4 linked regions of the Homo sapiens genome follow. The protein of the gene in region 1 purifies or fractionates together with the protein of each later gene. This does not show direct contact. Each region holds a gene or a part of one and is shown on either strand. Other genes may lie near its edges.

What was found. Proteins that work in one complex are often made in the same cells at the same time.
Region 2: the proteins of RHOD (region 1) and CETN3 purify together in Homo sapiens (affinity purification with mass spectrometry; 3 studies listed by BioGRID and IntAct, with this or other methods). This does not show direct contact.
Region 3: the proteins of RHOD (region 1) and PLXNB2 purify together in Homo sapiens (affinity purification with mass spectrometry; 5 studies listed by BioGRID and IntAct, with this or other methods). This does not show direct contact.
Region 4: the proteins of RHOD (region 1) and SPTB purify together in Homo sapiens (affinity purification with mass spectrometry; 3 studies listed by BioGRID and IntAct, with this or other methods). This does not show direct contact.

The regions. Positions count from the first base shown.
Region 1 is NC_000011.10:67,066,847-67,070,193, forward strand, and holds part of RHOD (rho-related GTP-binding protein RhoD), read left to right. Parts: coding exon 1-1; intron 2-3,347. UniProt on the Homo sapiens protein: Involved in endosome dynamics. May coordinate membrane transport with the function of the cytoskeleton. Involved in the internalization and trafficking of activated tyrosine kinase receptors such as PDGFRB.
Region 2 is NC_000005.10:90,402,436-90,407,772, forward strand, and holds part of CETN3 (centrin-3), read right to left. Parts: coding exon 5,264-5,337; intron 3,365-5,263; coding exon 3,250-3,364; intron 1-3,249. UniProt on the Homo sapiens protein: Plays a fundamental role in microtubule-organizing center structure and function. As a component of the TREX-2 complex, involved in the export of mRNAs to the cytoplasm through the nuclear pores.
Region 3 is NC_000022.11:50,286,326-50,291,662, forward strand, and holds part of PLXNB2 (plexin-B2 isoform 3 precursor), read right to left. Parts: intron 4,273-5,337; coding exon of another isoform or gene 4,260-4,272; coding exon 3,192-4,259; intron 2,818-3,191; coding exon 2,635-2,817; intron 2,547-2,634; coding exon 2,418-2,546; intron 1,713-2,417; coding exon 1,612-1,712; intron 1,469-1,611; coding exon 1,342-1,468; intron 940-1,341; coding exon 786-939; intron 1-785.
Region 4 is NC_000014.9:64,771,087-64,776,423, forward strand, and holds part of SPTB (spectrin beta chain, erythrocytic), read right to left. Parts: intron 4,666-5,337; coding exon of another isoform or gene 4,564-4,665; exon of another isoform or gene 4,333-4,563; intron 4,318-4,332; coding exon 4,039-4,317; intron 3,442-4,038; coding exon 3,311-3,441; intron 2,339-3,310; coding exon 2,134-2,338; intron 1,869-2,133; coding exon 1,494-1,868; intron 44-1,493; coding exon 1-43.

The DNA of each region.
Region 1 (3,347 bases):
GGTAGGTACTGGGGGGCAGGGAGGCATAGCCCCCATAGCCAGGCCACTCCACTCTGCCACCCACCCTCGACCCAGCTGACTGTCAGAGCTTGGCAGGCCCAAAATGATATTGATTCCAGAGCTTTTGGTGTATATATGGGGAAACTGAGGCTCAGAGTGGGGCAGTGGCTTGCCCAGGGTTGCTGGCACAGGGATTTGGTGGCAGCGTCTGCCCTTCTGACTCCCAGTACAGTGCTCCTTGCCTACCCTATGCTGCAGACTCCGAACACTGTGGCTCTTCCCACGGCGGCTCTGCCTGAGGTTGCTGGGTGAGCCAGAGGCTGCTACATCTCCCCAGCCTGTGCCCGCCCAAGGTGCATGAACAGTCAAGTCAGAGTCCAGCAGCTCTGCGTGGCTGCTGGTTCTCAGAGGCTGCTCATGGGCATCAGGGATGTGGCCCCTTGAATTCCTCTGCTCCAGCTGCCTTTAGCCATGGCACAGCCCCTCACCCACTGCTGCCAGGGCCTCCGAGTTTCCGCAGGGTACAGCCCATGACAGTATTTGCAACAACAACAACAACGGTGACAATTTTAAGGACTGACCACGTGCCAGGCAGTGTTCTTGGTACTTGCATGTATTTACTCATTTACTCCCCCGGCCAACCTTATGGAGTATTATTATTCCCGGATCCAGTCACTCGTCCAAAGATACACATCTATTAAAGTGGTAACACTGGGATTTGAACCCAGGCAGGCTGCTCCGCCCATTCATTCAGAACGAATGATTGAGCACATTCGTTCTGGTGCTGTTCTGGGCATTGGGTACCAGGAGAGATGGTGGTGCCTGGGGCCAGGGTGCTAGCAGTGGGGGTGACGAGAAGGGGGCTGATTCTGAATCGGTCTAGAAGGCGGAGTTTGCTGATGATCAGAGTTTCTTGTTGGATTGGATGTGGGTGGGAGGGAGGAGTTTTTTTGTTTGTTTGTTTGTTTTTTGAAACGGAGTCTTGCTCTGTCACCCAGGCTGGAGTGCAGTGGCGCCATCTCGGCTCACTACAAGCTCTGCCTCCCAGGTTGATACCATTCTCCTGCCTCAGCCTCCTGAGTAGCTGGGACTACAGGCGCCCGCCACCACGCCCGGCTAATTTTTTGTATTTTTAGTAGAGACGGGGTTTCACCATGTTAGCCAGGATGGTCTTGATCTCCTGACCTCGTGATCCGCCCGCCTCGGCCTCCCAAAGTGCTGGGATTACAGGCGTGAGCCACCACGCCCAGCCTGGGAGGAGTTTTTACCAGAGCAGCTGGAAGGTGGAGTTGCCCTTGGCCAAGATGACAAGGAGCAAGCTGGGTTCGGGAGTGGGACATCCTAGTGGAGGTGTCCGGCAGGCAGTGCGATGCATGCGTCTGCAGTTCCTCCGAGCAGGCAGTCCAGCTGGGCAGCCTAAATGCAGCTGCACATTTAGAAGCTACGGGTGCAGTAAAGCCTGGGGGAGGCTGCCCAGGAAGGGAGAGCAGCTAGAGGAGAGGAAAGACCACAGGCTGAACCCCAGGGAGAGGAGGAGGAGGGCAAGGCCCCATAAGACCTAGGAGAGCCAGGAGAGTGGGGTCCTGGGGTGAAGTGCAGGCTCAGTCAGGTAGGAGGGAGTGATGCCCAGGGTCGGGGTTATCGAGGGATCAGTAGGAGCAGGGCTAAGGATTCTCTGATGGTGGCCGGGTGCGGTAGCTCACGCCTTGTAATCCCAGCACTTTGGGAGGCTGAGGAGGGTGGATTATTTGAGGAGTTTGAGACCAGCCTGACCAACATGGTGAAACCCCGTTGCTACTAAAAATACAAAAATTAGCCGGGCGTGGTGGCACATGCCTATAACCCAGCTACTTGGGAGGCTGAGGCAGGAGAATTGCTTGAACCCGGGAGGCGGAGGTTGCAGTGAGCCAAGATCGCACCACTGCACTCCAGTCTGGGCGACAGAGCGGGACTGTCTCAAAAAAGAGAGGATTCACTGCTGGGTTCAGTGGGAGCCACCAAGGAAACCTTTCTCATGGGCAGTTTCGGTGGATGCGGGGGTGTGGGGAATCTGCCAGGGACCCCACAAAGGCCCCATTTGCTTCCAGGAATGAGGTAGTTTGATGCCAATTTTTGTTTGTTTGTTTGTTTGTTTGTTTTGAGACAGAGTCTCACTCTGTCTCCCAGGCTGGAGTGCAGTGGTACAATCTGGGCTCACTGCAACCTCCACCTCCTGGGTTCAAGCGATTCTCCTGCCTCAGCCTCCCGAGTAGCTAGGATTGCAGGCTTGAGCCACCAAGCCCGGCTGATGCCAATTTTTATCAGGCAAGTTTCATGCCCAAACCAGCCGACTTCAGCCGACTTAGTGCTCCTGGAGATAGGAAGCCCCCTCCCGGGATCCCCGGCTCCCCAGCTGTAGTCCAGGCTGAAAGAACTCGGCCCTGGTGGCCTCACATTCTGCAGAGCAGCCCTCCCTCCACCAGGCAAGCAGTTGAGGCAGACAGCTGCTGCAACCATTTTGTGAGCAGATTTATTTATTTATTATTTTTTTGAGACGGAGTCTCACTCTGTAGCCCAGGCTGGAGTGCAGTGGCTCCATCTCAGCTCACTGCAACCTCCGCCTCCCAGGTTCAAGCGATTCTCCTGCCTCAGCCTCCAGAGTAGCTGGGACTACAGGTGCACGCCACCACGCCCAGCTAATTTTTGTATTTTTAGTAGAGACGGGGTTTCCCCTTGTTGGCCAGGCTGGTCTCGAACTCCTGACCTCAGGTGATCTGCCTGCCCTCAGCCTCCCAAAGTGCTGGGATTACAGGCGTGAGCCACCGAGCCCGGCCTGGATTGATTGATTTATTTTTATCTTTTTAATTGATTTATTTATTTATTTTGAGATGGAGTTTCACTCTGTCGCCCAGGCTGGAATGCAGTGGCGCGATCTCAGCTCCCTGCAACCTCCGCCTCCCAGGTTCATGCCATTCTCCTGCCTCAGCCTCCCGAGCAGCTGGGATTACAGGCACCCGCCATCATGCCCACCTAAATTTTGTATTTTTACTAGAGACAGGGTTTCACTGTTGGCCAGGCTGGTCTCAAACTCCTGACCTCAGGTGTTCCACCTGCCTCAGGCTCCCAAAGTGCTGGGATTACAGGCGTGAGCCACCACACCTGGCCCAGATTTGTTTTTAAAGGATCCCTTACTTCCTTATATGTTTTGCTCAGTTTGGTGGGTGTCCATGAGGGCCCTTACCCTGCAGAGAGGAAAGATTCTAGAACGGCAGGAGCAGGGTTCTGAGCCCCACCCCCAGGCTCAAATCCTGCCATTTCCAGCCAAGGCCAAGTTACATCGCCTTTCTGTGCCTCAGTTACCGCACCTG
Region 2 (5,337 bases), on another chromosome or scaffold:
AACATGCTATCCGTCTAGTACCATTCTTTGTTGTTGCTGCTTTCTAAGCCTAGAATGCTTTTTCTCTACTCTTCCTGGCAATCTTGGAATGAAATCTTACTCACATTTCCAAAGGCCTAAATTTAAAATCTCCTCTGCAAAGACTTCAATTCCTCTAGATCAGGGATTAACAAATCTTTCCTGTAAAAGGCCAATAGTAAATATTTTAGGCTTTGTAGAGGGCCATAAAGTCTCTAACTACTCACTCTGCCATAGTAGCACAAAAGCTGCATAAAAGAAGGGGTGTGGTGGTGTACAAGCAGCAGCTGAATTTGGTCCAAAGGCTATAGTTGCTGACTTCTGTCCTAGACAAAATTACAATTTACCACATAGTACTATAGCCTGTTGTCACCTATATTTACATTGTAAACTCCCTGAAAGAAGAACCTTTTAGTAACTTTTAATTAAGTCTTCTTCCCAACCCCAGTACAGTACCTAATACCAAAAAATTCAGTGTTAAATAAGCAAAATGAAGACAATAATACAGTATTACAATCTCAATCAGCAATAATAAGTAGTACATGTCAAAAATAGTGTACAAACGTTTGACTTATGTTAGTCTTAAAGACACTAATTCCTAAAATATCTATGTTACTCACTAGCCTCAGGCTGTCTTGACTCTAAACTTAAATTAAATATATTTTAAAGCTTTTTTCCAGTACTAGGAAGAGTCTATAATAGTTAACTGCCAAACTTCATCCAGATATATCTGTGGAACAGTGTCCTTGGGTAGTTCATAAAACTAGGACTCAAATGTTATGATTTAGAATCATCTGTCCCAAAGTATAAAACATATTAATCTGTGGTCAGTGATTAGTTAAAAATAATCAACAAAAGGGGTAATACATAGTTCCTGAATGATTCCCAAACAGTAATACATTTTTATTTGACACCTGGTACTCTCCATAGGTAGCCTTAAGATAGCTAAGATACATGTTGACCCTGTCAAAAGGTTAATCTTTTAGTGTCAAAGCTGAAGTTTAGCCACATCTATTTATTCTAGAAGGAACCCAGTATTTCTGCTCTGTTAATAACATAGAACAGATGGGGTGTCAGGAAAAAGTGGAGGTGGCATGGGATTCTGGTCCCAACTGCCAATAAAAATCACAATTTTTGGCCGGGCGCGGTGGCTCACGCCTGTAATCCCAGCACTTTGGGAGGCCGAGGCGGGCGGATCACGAGGTCAGGAGATCGAGACCATCCCGGCTAAAACGGTGAAACCCCGTCTCTACTAAAAATACAAAAAATTAGCCGGGCGTAGTGGCGGGCGCCTGTAGTCCCAGCTACTTGGGAGGCTGAGGCAGGAGAATGGCGTGAACCCGGGAGGCGGAGCTTGCAGTGAGCCGAGATCCCGCCACTGCACTCCAGCCTGGGCGACAGAGCGAGACTCTGTCTCAAAAGAAAAAAAAAAAAAAAAAAAAAAAAATCACAATTTTTAAATTGTGTTCATTTAAGGTGAAATAACATATTTTGTAAAATTATTAGTGATGATACAGTGCTTACAATAGCCTTTATGAAAAAAGTCAATAAAAAATATACACAAAGTCTATTTTATGTCCCAGTGATGCATATATGATTATTTCGAGCCCCTGAAACAAAGACAATTTTTTAAAGTAATAATAATAGCAAATGCTTAGTAGCACTTACAACATGCTAGGCCCTTTTCTAGGTACTTCACATATCATTAACTTAATCCTTAGAAGAATCTCATGAGAGAATACAATGATCCCCACTTTATAGTTGAAAATGAGGCATGGGGTATTAAAAAGACCAAGTTCCAGAGCTGTAAAGTGGCAAAACCAAGGTATGAACCAAGGGAATCTGGTTCCAAGTGCTAAACCACTATACTGTACTAAACATACCTGGATTATAGCTCCTTCCTAATAGTACCATTTCCACTATATACAAACACCTTGTTTCTACAAATAAACAATCTAAGGTAAAACTAGGAATACTACGATCATAAACTTCAGGAGAGTGTCCATTCTGGGAGAACAAAAGGTGGCTCTCTCCCTTTCCTCAAATAATTAATTCTACAAATTAGAGGAAAAAAGGAAAATGTCCCCAATGGACAAGTTGCCTCTCTAAACAGTCATATATTAGTTCATAAGTTGAGGATCTTCTGTGCTGTGTTTTTTTTCTCTTAGGTTCATCATTTATTTTCCATCTCAACTGCTTATGACTTGAGCTTTTGGATTTAAAAAACTGACTAATGACATGAATCTAAATTTTCTCTGCGTCTACTAATTGCCATTTCTTTTTGCTTCCCCTATTGCTTCTTGATTAATATTTAAAATAAGGGGTTTGTGTATATAGCAGAATTTGTTTCCAAATTTTTAAAATATCTTAAAATACTTATATGATGTGCTTATATCGTGACCCATTGGTTTAGAGAAAAAAAAAAAAAGAAATAAACCTGAATATTTACATATTTTGTAGATAATATTCTAGACAATACATTTAAGTTATAATAGCAACATCCTTGCCTTCCGGACTCTTCTATTTTGAAAAAGCCTGGTCTATATATGCTATAAATAATTCACTAAAATCAACTATAAAAAAATTTAGCCATATTAAGCCTATGACACATTATCTTCAGTTGGTGGTACTAGGATGTTTTCTCCTGCTTCCAGTATGCCCACTGCCTCCTTTACTACTACCCTCTAAACAGATGACTTTATCCACTGAGATCAAGGTCATCCAGAGGATGTAGCCTCTCATAAACTTTGTCAACCTGAAGTCGTGCATTTCATCTACAGCCAAAGATACCAACTACTACCAGTTCCCTCTTCTCCCACTTAGCCAACAAAAATCACATACCAGAAAGGTCTTGGGAAACATTTTCCAAACAGCAGGATATCAAATTTTCTGTTTTATTAAGCAAAAATAATTTTTTGATCACCCTTCAAGTTTTATCACATAATATAAATACAAACAACTTGGAAAAGCATCTTTCTATAAAAAGCTACACAATAGTTCCTTGGTTAGAATCTTCACAACAAAACAAAAGACAAAACTATAAATCTCAGAGCAAAGCCATATTTTTTCTTTGAAAAAAAAACCAACAAAACAAAACTGAGTAAGAGTCACATTATACACCAGTGTTCTATAAGAAAATTCCATAACCTAGAGAATTTAAAATTTAAAAAGTGATATTAATCAGACAATTTCCTAACAGCTGCTGATTACAAAGACTATTAAAATACACACCAACTTCATTAAAATCTTCAAAGGTGATTTTCCCTGTGGCTTCTCTGTCATAATCTTTAAGAATCTTCAGTACATCAGCTTTTTTTACATCAAACCCCAAGGCTCTCATTGCCACCTTTTGGATTAAAAAGGAAAAGCAAATTATAAAGCACTCTTTACAAAAGAATTTCTAATTATTAAGTTTTTACATCTTAAGAGATGACAACACATTAATAAAATATAACTTTTTTGCATGTTTTACCTCTTTAAAATAGCAGTGATAGTGTAATTGTTCTTCACTACTGAAATTAAGTATGCATAAGTTTTTTCATTTATAAATTGCATTTTTTATATGACAAAGTAACCAACAAGTGTTTACAGATTTTACTATATAAAATGCACTAACTTATTGCACAGATAATTTGATTGTTATTTGTTCTGAAGGGATTAACAATCAAAATGAGAAAAAGGCGTGGCATAAATATTAAACAGTTACATGATAGAAGAGATAAAACATTAAAACAAGAATTATCATCAGTCTTTCCATGATTAGTTACCAGGTAAATGATAGGGCTAAGGACCCTGAGTTTAGAGAAAAAAGAGATTTTGTTACTAATAATAAGGAAGGAGACATATTACTGACTAGAGAAGTCTTATTTGGAAAGATTCAAACTGTTCCTTGAAGGATAGATGAAGAGGAGCAGTAGGGTATTTGGGAAGGATGACTGGTATTAAAAGAAACACTGAAACGAATAGGTTCGAAGGACAATGAACAGAGCAGTTTACCTCACCTGAATTAGAAAAGTTCAGGTGAGGTAAACTGCTCACCTGAATTAGGAGGTGAATTCCACCTTAATTAGAAGAGTTCAGGAGGAAGAAAGCAGTTAGCAAATGAAAAAAGTAGTTGGTGGCAAAAGTGTAGAGAACATTCAGTAGAAAGCAAAGGAATCTGAACTTTAAGTAGTATACAATGAGGAGTTATGGTTTATGAGCAATGAACAATTTATGAGCAATGGTGAAAGAATTTTTAAACTATCTAAATTCAGTGGTAGTGTACAAGGTGAACTAGTAAGAAATCATTTAGGAAGCTCCAGGTATGAAATAAGGTCCCAAACCAAGATAGTCAATGGTTACAAATGGAACAGACATTATAAAGGAAGATCAAATCTGGGTAACCAAAAAAAAAAAAAAACAAAAAAAACAGTGGGAAAAGAGAGCCAAAGAGGACTGCAAGATTGAGAAAGCTAGACTTAGCAGGCCTATTAACTGCTTTTATACATTCTATCCTGTCACTGCATAGTTCCTATCCCTACTTGGAATTCTAATGCTTAAAAATCCCTTACGAAATTACAAAAATTAAAACTACCAAATAAACACTTACATTCACCTATCCATTAAGGCCATTAAAAATCTCAAAATACTATCTTTCCCACTGTGCTGAAAGTAAGTCCCATTCTACCCTAAACCCAAATCTCTCCTTATACCCTGACAAATAATAATTTACAAATCTCTCCCTACACTTTGACATTCTAGGTCTTAAAGCTGACATTTTTACCTATTAGCATGTGTCAACATCAAACAGCACTAAAGTTGTTTGCACCAGAGAAAGTGGATTGAGACTATGTTACTAACAAATCCAAATTATAAGATTAAAAGACAACACTCCCACAGTCTGAAAACAGTATGAGTCACCAAGAAACAAAAACAAAAACAAAAAACAGTGAAAAGAAGATGGTAAGAATAAATTCCAGTTTGAAATCCTTTAATTATGACAGTGAAAAATAAGCACCTTCCCTGGGAATGTATTTTTACATTTAAAATACTATTCGTTTTCTCATGTGAAAAAGATTTTCTAAAAACTATGTTAGGAGTTCTCTTCAGTTTTATTACAGCATCTAACTATGAATGCTTAAAATGCCTTCATAGTTCCAAAACCAATTTAGTTAAAATAATTATTTAGAAATGTAATGTAAAGCAACTGTAAAAATGCAAATCATTTTAACACAGAAACAAATATTTTAAAGTATACCATTACCTTTAATTCATGATAATCTATTGCTTCATCTTTGTCTGTATCAAATAGTTCAAAAGCATCTTTAATTTCTTGTT
Region 3 (5,337 bases), on another chromosome or scaffold:
GCAGGGCCGAGGGCCAGGCTGGGCCTCCCCTGGGGCTGACTCCTGGGGCCAAGGTGGAGACCCCTGGTCTTCAGGGGGCCCTGCCAGGACGCCCCGCATTCATGTTGGGCGGGGCCTGCCACCTGCTATCAGATCTCGGGTGGGGCTGCCAGGACGCCCGTTCACGCTGGGCTGGACCTGCCACCTGCTATCAGATCTTGGTTCGGGTGTCGGGCGCAGCACCGGGCTTGCCTTTCTCCCCCGGGTCCAGGTTGCTTTCATACCCTCTGTTCCCGCAGGCACTGAGGGCAGCGGCTCCTTGGAGTCTGAGTGGGACCTGCCAGGTCCCTGCCCACGTCACTGCGTGGCCCCACTGCCCCCAAAACTCAGGGGACATGGGCGCGACGCCTGCCCTGGCCCACATGCGAGGCCCTGCAGCCTCTGGGAACGGCCCTGCTCTCTGAAGCTGGACATGGCAGGAAGGGGTGAGGGGCGTCTGCCGAGACGACGGGGCCTGGCGCCTGGCACCCACATGCCGCTCCGGACGTGATGAGGGAGCAGGCTGAAGACAAGTCACCTTTGCTACAGGCCTGGGGGGCGTGGCTGCGGACAGCCCAAGAAGCCAGAACCTCCCCAACAGGCACAGCAACCCCACCACAGGCTTCATTCAGGCTGGGCCCCCGGAGCAGCCGCGGAGTGTGCCTGTGCAGAGCCTGCACCCAGGGGCCAGCAGAGGCGAGAGCCCGTGTGCACAGGGCCCCGTGCGACCGAGAAGGGCCACCCGGGGGCTCGGGAAGGGGCCTCACCCTGGCCTGGCGGTGTGACGGGGATGCTGCTTGGGGAGTTGCAGATGACGGCCTCGCCCTCCACGCGGGCGGGGTGTGGCGGCGACTCCCCAAAAAGGCACAGCAACTCGTCCTCCTCGCTCAGGGCAGGGAGGGGGCTGACGGTCAGCTGCACCTGAGGGAGGGGCCGTGCCGCTCACACTGGGAACCCCGAGTCCTGTCAGCCCACCTGCCGGTGACCCGACCTCCCTGCGTGTGTGGGCGCACGTCCCAGTGGAGCCTCCAGAACCCGACTCCACGTCTTCCAATACAGGCCTCTCTGTGGTCACCCCAGCAACTCCTGGGACAGGGCCTGAGTCCACCCTGGATATGGACAAGCCCCACCCCTGCCCGCCCAGGTCATAGGGGTCCAGGGGACCAATGGAGGGCGGGCTCCATCCCTAAGGCTCGGTGCCCAGAGCCCAGGCGGGGGAGATGTGGAGCCCTCCCCTGCCTGTCCCAACAGCTCCCAGCATGGGGGAGCCCCCACCTGGCCCGGCCTGGGGCCCAGGACCCCCACCCCAGACCCACCACGCACCTCCCCCTGGGCCCGCCGGCTCATGTTCTGTGGCTGGGCGCTGGTGACGGCCACGCAGGACTTGCTTCGGCTCCACAGCCAGTGGCTGGCCTCCTCGGCCCGCGGACACTCGGCCTTCCGGGTGCATCTGCAGGCGCAGGGGGCGGCCTCAGCCCAGGGTGGAGTCTTGTTCTCCCGGGACAGGACAGTGCGATGTGCCCCCCGACCCAGGCCACGACCTTCCGGGATCCCAGAGGCAGGCCGTGTCCCCGAGCCACCCCAGGCACTCACCGTCCCTCGACGACGCACCAGCCGCAGTAGGGGTCCTGGGAGTCGCGGCACTGGGTGCAGGTCGGGTAGCTCAGGCACTCCTGCACCGGCAGCCGGAACACCTAGGGCAGCGGGGCCGTGAGTGGGACCACAGCAGAGGCCGCACGGGCCTTCCGCAGACCCCAGATGTCCCCAGACCGCCAGCTTGACCCAGCTCTGTCCCGGGGCCTCGGGAGCCTCAGACACCTCAGGCTTGATATTAAACAGTTCTGGCTCTGGGTGGCCATGCCTGGCCCAGGATCCCGATGGGAGCCCAGGGAAGCCTGGAGGTCTTGGCTATGGTGTCTCCCGGGGCAGCTCCTGTCCTCTACACTGGCTCCCTCCGAGGGGTGCTCCTAGGGCTGGCCTGAGGGTCTCTGGCACTAACCCCCCACAAGCTTGGGGCCCAGGCCCATGTTCTCCACTGACTGAGCTCACATGGGCTGTGCAGGGACCCCGTCTTCCCATCCACCCTCAGCAACACGCCTCAGACACCAACCCAGGTCCCTTCCATCAGGACAGGGCAGAGGCGGGGCCAGAGGGAGAGACATGGTTGAGACCACAAAGGACAAACAGAAGGAGCGGCAGAGACGGGGCAGTGCTAGAGAGACACAGGATGGAGGCACTGCCCGGGACCCACCCAGCCACCCCTCATCCAGACCAAGGAGAAGGGCCCAGCTCTGCAGCACCCCATCCTCCTCTGGCCCCCAGGCCTGTCCTAAGGGCCTGGGATGCAATGACCGGGCACACTTGGCCTAGAGTGCTCTCCGGGGCTGCGTCTGGCTCACCTTGTCCTGGGTCATGGCGTACAGGCTGCCCAGGTCTCCAGACAGTACCAGGTCGCGCTTGACTCTCTTGTTTATCTCCACAAGGATAGAGTCGTACTCTGAGGAGGTGCCATCTGGGGTGAGGTACACCTGTGTGCGCGAGGGCAGGCCGGTGAGGGTACGGGCCTTGTGCACAGACGGGCCCTCCAGAGCCTCCCCGCCCCAGCCTGGGCCAAACCTTGAGGATCCGGCCATCAGAGGTGCCCAGAAAAGCAACAGTGTGGTTGTTCTCGGCGGCGACCGTCACGGCCGTGAGGTTCAGGCCTCCACGCTGCAGCACGGCTGTGCCTCTGAGCCCGTCGCGGCTGCCCAGCGGGTAGGGCAGGTGCTCCGAGCCACATGGGAAGCTCTTGCTGGAGCCCTGCGGACCACAGCGTGTCAATGGCAGGCAGACCCCCTGTCCTGAAGGGCCCTCTCCACTCGCGCTCCAAGACTCGGGACAGGCCCTTCCCTTCCCTCCGGCACACGTCCTACACACGTCCCCGAGAACAGAACCCACATGGCAGGGAGCCCCACCGTGCTCACTGTTGTGTTCCCCAGTGCCCGACACAGGCCTGGGACTGGCGCCAGCGTGAATGGCATTGAGAGATGCGGCACCCACCCACGCAAGCGCCCAGGCTGGCGAGAGCCACGGCCACACTGCTCACGTGCACCCTCCCCAGCAGGCTGGGACACGCAAACCCACGAACGGACGCCTGCAGTCCGGGCCCTGCGAGAACACACTGAGGCCCATACCGGCGCGTGGCCGCCGCACTGGATATCGCCGTGGAAGGGCTTGTAGAAGATGTCACGGGCCTCCCGGGTGCCTGTGTAACAGGCGTTGCGGTTGGCCTCCATCTTGGCGTGCACCTTGTCCAGCGGGAACAGGCAGAGGCCCGCACCGGGCCCCCCACTGCTCCGGCTGTCTCTGCTGAAGACAGCATATAGCACCCTGCCAGAGCCAGGCGCAGCCACGGAGGCGGCCAGGCAGGTGCCAAAGGCAGCGGCGTGGATGTCGGGGTCCCGGCACTGCAGGTCCATCTCCAGGTAGGAGTAGTAGTTGGGGTCTTCTCTGCACATGCGTGCCAGCAGCGTGCGGTTCCGGGCCGGGTGCTTGTCCTGCTGGTTGAAGACAAAGAAGACGTAGGGGCCGTCCTCGAAGGCCGCCACGAACTGCTGTGTGTTGGTGGACAGGTAGCCGGCCTTGTAGGTGGCGTGGTCCGTGTAGGCTTCAAAGGCCTCCCTGCTGTCAGTCCGGTCCAACAGCCGAGTGCTCACGATGATGCCGTTGTCGTGTGGCCCATTGCCTTTGCCCACAAACAGCACGCGGTCACCACCAGGACCCGTGGAGCTCACCAGCCCCACTGTGGCCACGCCCTCATCATTGCTGGCCACGAAAGACTTCTCCCCGCTGCCGTCCTCGTAGAACAGGCGGAGGGAGATGTTGCTCAGGGCGCGCAGAGCGCAGATGCCCTTGAAGAGGCTGCCGCACTCCACCAGGCGCTTCCTGGGAGGGTCGAGCAGCAGCAGCTGGTTGACATTGTCAGTCATCTCAGCCTCATGGCACTGGCTGGCCTCGATGGGCGGCGTGCACTTCTTGTTGTCCAGGGCCGGGCCCGTGGCCACCTGCTGCTCCAGCTGCAGCTTCGCATCCAGCTGGTAGAGGGCATTCACCGCCCCCAGGTACACCACGCCTGAGGCCTCATCCACAGCCAGGTGGTTCAGCTCTTTCTCGCTGCGGAAGAAGTCCAGCTTGCGGGGCCTCAGGCTGGCACCTGCGCCCAGCAGGCCCAGCAGGGTCAGGGCCCAGAGCTGCAGTGCCATTGCCCCCCGCACCCTGTGGGAAGAGAGAAGGGTCAGGGGAGCCCCGACCCAGAGGACCCCCGATCAAATCCCTCTCCAGTCCCTGCCCCAAACGTCAGAACATGGGAGAGAGGGTCACGCCACTCCACGAACTGAGGAACCTGGAGCTCCGCCCCTTCCTGCTTCACACCCCCGCCATCCTCGAGGTCTCGCCGGAGACCACTTCTCAGCCCTCCTCAAGTCCACCCTGACTGACCACTGGGGCCAAGGCACTGCCATCGCCTGCTACAGGATCCCTCCCGGAGGTGCTGAAAACACCGGCAGGCCTATCCCCGAGGCAAGGAGTTGACGCCCCCAGAAAGGCTCTCAAGTGCTCACATTCATGCCCCCTGACCTGTGACCCCAAGGAGCTCCAGGTGGTCGGGACGCACCGGCCCCAGCGCACAGGCTCAGGCTGACAGACAGACCCCTGGACGTTGGAACAGGTGGCTCACCCATGGGGCAGAGGTGAAGGACACGGGAAACCAGAGGCTCAGGTGAGAGCGAGGGGTGCCCTGTGCATAGCCCAGCAAGTGCACATGCTGTTTACAACTGCCCGCCAGAGCCCCCAGGCGGCCTGAGCCTCCCTGACCACCTCCAGGCCCCCTGCCCTGGTGAAACAGTGGAAGCCAGCAATCACCCACAGCTCCTCGCTCGGCCCATGTCACGCCCAGGGCACAGCCTCTGATGTGCGCACAGCGGAGGCAACAAGGGGACCTGGGGAGCCATGAGCAACTCCAAATCCACCAGGTCTCAGAGGCAGAGGCCCCCACATCTGCAGCCTGGACAGGCTGTGTCCACATGCGTGTGTGTAACTGAGCACGTCTCGGTGTGGGGTCTGTGCCTGGGTCCGGGTGGATGAGGGGGATGTGTGGTGTGATGGGTGAGCTGCTGAGGACCAGGCTGAGCTGAGGGTCTCCCAATAGGAGGAAGATCCAAGGCCCCACAGGTGGACCCAGGACATGCGTGGTCCTCTCTCTTTCCCTCCCTACCAGACTCAACTGCATCTTGGGGGCTCAGACACAAGTGGCAGAGACAGGGCCCTTCTGCCTCTGAGCTC
Region 4 (5,337 bases), on another chromosome or scaffold:
ATGCTGTCTGCAGACGGGTGGCCACGTCCTGGAACTGCTGCACCTGTGGTCAGGCAAAATCAGACATTGTTCCCTGGACATTGCTCCCTAGGTGCTGTGGGCCTAGGACTGGAAGGGCAGCTACCTCCTCCTGGCCTCCCTGCCCAGGGCACTGCTGGAAGGTAGGATCTTCAGCCTCCACCCAGTGGGTGCTGTAGGAGAAGACTCCTTGCTTTAACACCTCTGCCTACCCAAGATACCTCTTGAACTTTGTGAAGGTTTGGGAGTGAGAGGAAATCCTGCCCTTTGATCTCCTCAACAATACACTAATGAGAGGAACTACATATCAGGCACTGTTCTAAACACTTTCTACTGATGAACTCTCTTCGTCTTTCCAACAAACCCAGGAAGGAGGTACTATTACTATTGCTGTTTCTGAGATGGGGAAAACGAGGCACAAGGAAGCTAAGTAACTGGTCCAGGGTCCTTCACACTAGTAAAGGGGTACAGCTGGGATTTGCACCGTGCTCCTGAGTCCCCGTTCTTAACCATTCTGTGTGCTGCCTCTCCAAGGAAGTGGTTGCACCAGATCCCCTGATTGAGGCTGGCCCTGGGGACAGTGAAACCTCACTCCTAAGACCTCAGTGGGGCTACACCTATCTCAGGGGCCCTGGCATCCCCAAATGCAACAGCCACACACCAGGCCCTCCACTCCAGCTGGAGGACACTTCCCTAAGAGGTCCCCTTTTGGATGAACCAGGGGCCCAGCCAACCCTGGTGTTCTGTCCCCAAGCCCTGCAGGGCTGGCCTGGGATTGCGCAGCCAGCCTACCTCTCCCTGCTGCACTGGAAGCTGGGGGAGCCCTCAGCAACAGGGGCCCCCTTGCATTTGCCCTTTCTATCACACCAAGCTCTGGGGCACCCTACGGATCTGCGGAGGGCACTCCAGTGATGGGGCAGGGGTCTGAACAGTAGAACTTGGGGGCTCTCCAGCTCCCATGTGGAAAGGCTGAAGTGCCCGGTGGCTAAGTATGTGGGGTCTATAGCTAGACTGCCAGGGTCTGAGCCCTGGCTCCACTTCGTACCTACATGTTCCTGGGAAACTTATGGGTCTTCTACCTCTCCCTTTTCTCATCTACAAAGTGCAGGGAATATTAGTAGCTGCCTCAGAGGACTGCCATGAGGGTCCAGCGGCTACATACATTGCTCAGAAGAGCACCTGGTGCTAGAAAAGTGCTGTGCGTGTGTCCACTAATAGTACTGCACAACTGGAGAAACTGCAACCGTATAGTATTGTATGCATTGGCCTTTTGTGAGGATTCAGTTTAAAGAATGACTTCTGAAGCTAAGGAACATCTGAAAGCCACTGCTCCCAGCCCTGAGCTCCTGGCTGTCTAAGGAGGCAAAACCTCCTGGCACTTATCCTAGAGGTTTTCCTGCTGACAGCCAGGTGGGGACTGACACCCAGGGCTCCTGGAAATTGGTAGCAGGTGGGCGGCAGGGGGCTGAAGGTACCTGGACACCCAGCAGGTGGAGCTCCCGCTCGAAGGCTGTGTGCACCCGGTGGAAGGACTCGGCCGTGCTGGCGTCCAGCCCCACGTCCTCGGGCAGCTCGCGGTGCTTCTCGTCGATGAGGCCCAGGATCTCGGCACCCGTGTAGAAGTAGCGGTGCAGGTCATAGGAGGCGGCCAGCAGCTGCATGCGCGTGTCAATGAGCTCCAGGAGGTCTGCCCACATCTCGTTCAGCCCGTCCTTCCACTCGGCGATGGTGGCCGCCTCGCTGTGGCCCGCGTCGATGAGTCGCTCGATGAAGGCATTCACATTGTCCACCCGCTCCTGCCCAATCGCCCCGGTCTCCCGGGCAAAGTCCCGGAACTTGTCCCGCAGAAGCTAGGCATGGGGCAGACAGAAATGTGGTTATGGGGGGCACAGGGGTTACAGGTGTCACCAGCTTAGCCAAAGACTTTCCCAGGCAGCAACTGCAGCTCCGGGAGCTGCGCTGTCACACCTTCCCCAGGGCAGGCCTGCATCGGCTGGTCCCGCCTCACACTGGGGAGGTTACGTCCTATGCAGCACTCTGTGTGTCTTGAGTGACGGCTGGCTGCGTCTACCGCATTAGAGAAAGACAAAAACAGCAGGAGTTGTGGCTACTCACAGTCACGTGGTCAAAGTCTTGCCCCATTTCCGGGGAAGAGGCCACTAGCTCCTTTTCTGAAATCCACTGCTCCAGGTCGTCGGTCTCCCGCTTGAGCTGGAACAGGTGGTACATGTTCTCCAGCTTGCGCTTGCGCTCTTCCGCCACGTCCTTCAGCCCTGCGTAGTGCTTGTCCACTTGCCCCTGAAGTCTGATGATCTGTTCCCTGGAATTCAAAACCAAAAAGGCCCTCAGAGACGGCAGCCACGAACCCAGAGCCGTGGCTCCAGGGAGCCAACATATGCCAACCACAGCCCCCTGGCAGGGATAGGTAGGGAGTGAAGCTCTGGAGAAATGACAGGGGCTTTGCCGGGGAAGAGCTGGGGAGAGAAGGGGCCACACCCTAGCCTCAGGGGATGACACACTGTGTCCTGGAATTCTGTCCTGGAGGGGTGCTTCCCATGGTGCCCCTCACTCTGGCAAGCTTACAGGGACAAGTGCAAATGGGGAACGCCTCCATTGTTCTTCCAGAGAGGCTGGGGGAGCAGCACTACCTGAGTGGGGCTCCCGCAGCAACAGCTCTGCTCAGCCCTCCAGGGAGGGAAAAGACATACTAGGGGCCCAGACAATGTGGCTCCCAGGGAAACCTCTGGGGTGGCTGCTGAGGACCCACAGTGGTGGGCACCCTAATGGCAGCTGAGGACAGGGCCATGGCTGGGGGCAGTGTGTGGTCTGTGGCCCAGTGGGCTTCCATTTATGCAGGATCCACAAAACCTCGCAGCCCATGTGGGCACAGGTTTCCACCTGCACTCCTACATCATGGTTCTGTCTGGACTGTGAAGTCCTGGAGACCTTCTGGACCATAAAAATAAAAGCTAAAGTAGTCTTCAGTGTCCCTTAGCATATTGTAACCCTTCGGAAAATTGGTGCTCTCAGGTCACCAAGAGGGTAGTTTTGCTAACCCCTTCTCTGATCATTTCGAAAACCAGGGCCTCGATGGCCCAGCTGGAAGTGATTCACACAAAACCAAGGCATAAAATGAAATTGGATCCATCACCAGTCCCGCAGCAATTTTCTCCAGCCCTATTTGATGGGAAAACTCTTTCCATTTTCCTTTTAAATCTGAAGGGACGTTGGCTGGTGGGCCCCTGGCTCAATCCCCATCTCCTGACCGAGTCACCACAGGGGGCGCACGCACCCCTCAGGGTGGCCTGCAGACAGCAGGCCCTGGGCCCGGCTGGCCAGCTGCTTGATGTTCCGGCCGTAGTCCTCCACCGCACGCTGCTGCCGCAAATGTCGCTTCAGCATCACAATGGCGCCCTCTTCATCCTAGGAGGCAGCAGACGGTCAGCGCCAGAGCTCAGTCTGGCCATGATCCCTCCCTTGGCAAGTTGTGCCCCCACTCCTGGAGGTGCCCGAGGGAGGAGGGGAGTAGGCTTGTGGGACACCCGCAGGAGAGCCACACATGCTTCCTTCCTGCCCTTCTGATTTCCCAGCAATGCCCGTGCCCTACCTTCCTCTCTGGACTCCCCTGATTCGTATCCGACATATACCCTTCCTTTTGTGCTCTAACCCCTGTCCCCATGAAAACATCCTATATCATTCCAGCTTTGAGAGACCCCCACCTGTCACCTCTCACCCCATCTCTTTCATAGCGTACAGAATCCAGGGTAAAGAAAAGTAGAGAACCCTTGGGTTAGAGCAAACCTAAGTGGGTAAACAGGAGGCACCTGGCTTCAGTGTGTGCCCTGCAGGGGTGTGTTCAAGGAGGCACCAAGGGAGGGCAGGGAGTCTGTGGGTTCCTTGTGCCCCTCCCCTGGCCTCACTCCTCACACAGTTGGACTCACAAGGCTCCCTACCGACAGCCAACCTCAACTCTTCCTCTCTGCCTGGGCACCCTGGCTGGTATCCCCTGCCCGAACAGACCTTGGGGATCTCATCGGAGATGACGTAGAGCTCCTGCTCGCCAATCCAGGCCTCAGCCTCGTCTGCATCCAGGTAGTACTGCTGTGCCTCGTTGGCGTCCCTCAGTCGCTGCAGCCTCCCGGCCGCTGCCTCCCGCAGCCTGTCCCAGGAGCTCTGCAGGTGCCCCAGGCGCTCCTCAAGGTCCTGGCAGTCGATCTCCGCCGCCTCCACCAGCTGCTGCCCTCTCTGCAGCACATCCTCAACCCGCGGCGTATGGCCCAGAATCTCATTCTGCAGTGTCTGCGGCCAGAAGGAAGGGCTCGGGGCAGGGCCTTCCCACCATGCGGGGGAGGCTGCTTCAGCAGTGGCAGCACAGCTCTGACACCCTTGGTCCCTCTCACCCCCGTTGCTAGAGCAGAGCAGGTGATGGCGATAAGAACTACCAATGACCTCTTGCGGGCTGCTAAGCACCTCATGTGCACCATTCTTGCACCCTCAGGTGGCCTGCTGAGATAAGCATGTGGAGACCAGCATGCAGCAGTGAAGTCACTCAGTGGCAGAGCCGGAGTTGAACACAGCTCCACCTGACCTGGCAGCCTGTGCTCTTGACTGTCCCCTATCTTCCTGTGCTTCAGCAGAGCTTGATTCCTTAGGTGTATGTGTTGGAAGGAAAAGAAAAATGGCCTTTTTGATACCTTATTCTAACAGCTTTTGCAGGATTTATGCAGGATCATTTACGCAGGATACGCCCAACCCAGCAGCTCAGGTGGGCACAGTTTTTGCCTTCCATCTAAAAGAACAGGTGACAGCAGCCCCTTGCTTACAGTCTCAGCTTTTGTTTTTCCCTACTTCTATTTCTCATATTTTTGTGAGCTTTGCATTAGTCCCTGTTTGAGCCTTTGGTCATGAACACAGCCTCTTCCTCCCACCCTGGTGGCTGGTCACCTTTTTCTTCAGGAGGCCCTGACACGTGTTACTTGTTTTCTGGGTCCTAAAGACTGGGCTAGCTGCTGCTGGTGTGTGGGCTCCTGAGCTCCATATACCTCACTACCTGTTTCTTCCCTCTCTATATAATTTTCCTGTGGCCTTTAAAATTGGAAGGCAGGGGCAAGAGCAGCCCACATGAGCAGCACAGTGATGGCCAGCATTTAAAATATGCACAAAATAACCACATCTACAAGTCACATAACCTGCTGAAATGCATTTTTACACTTTATGCTCAGAACCTCAATTTTTACAATTTCCTATAGTCTCTGCAGTTGCATTCAAACAACCCATGTTTTCAGCTCCATTTGCTTGTTTACTCTGAGATCTTATGAC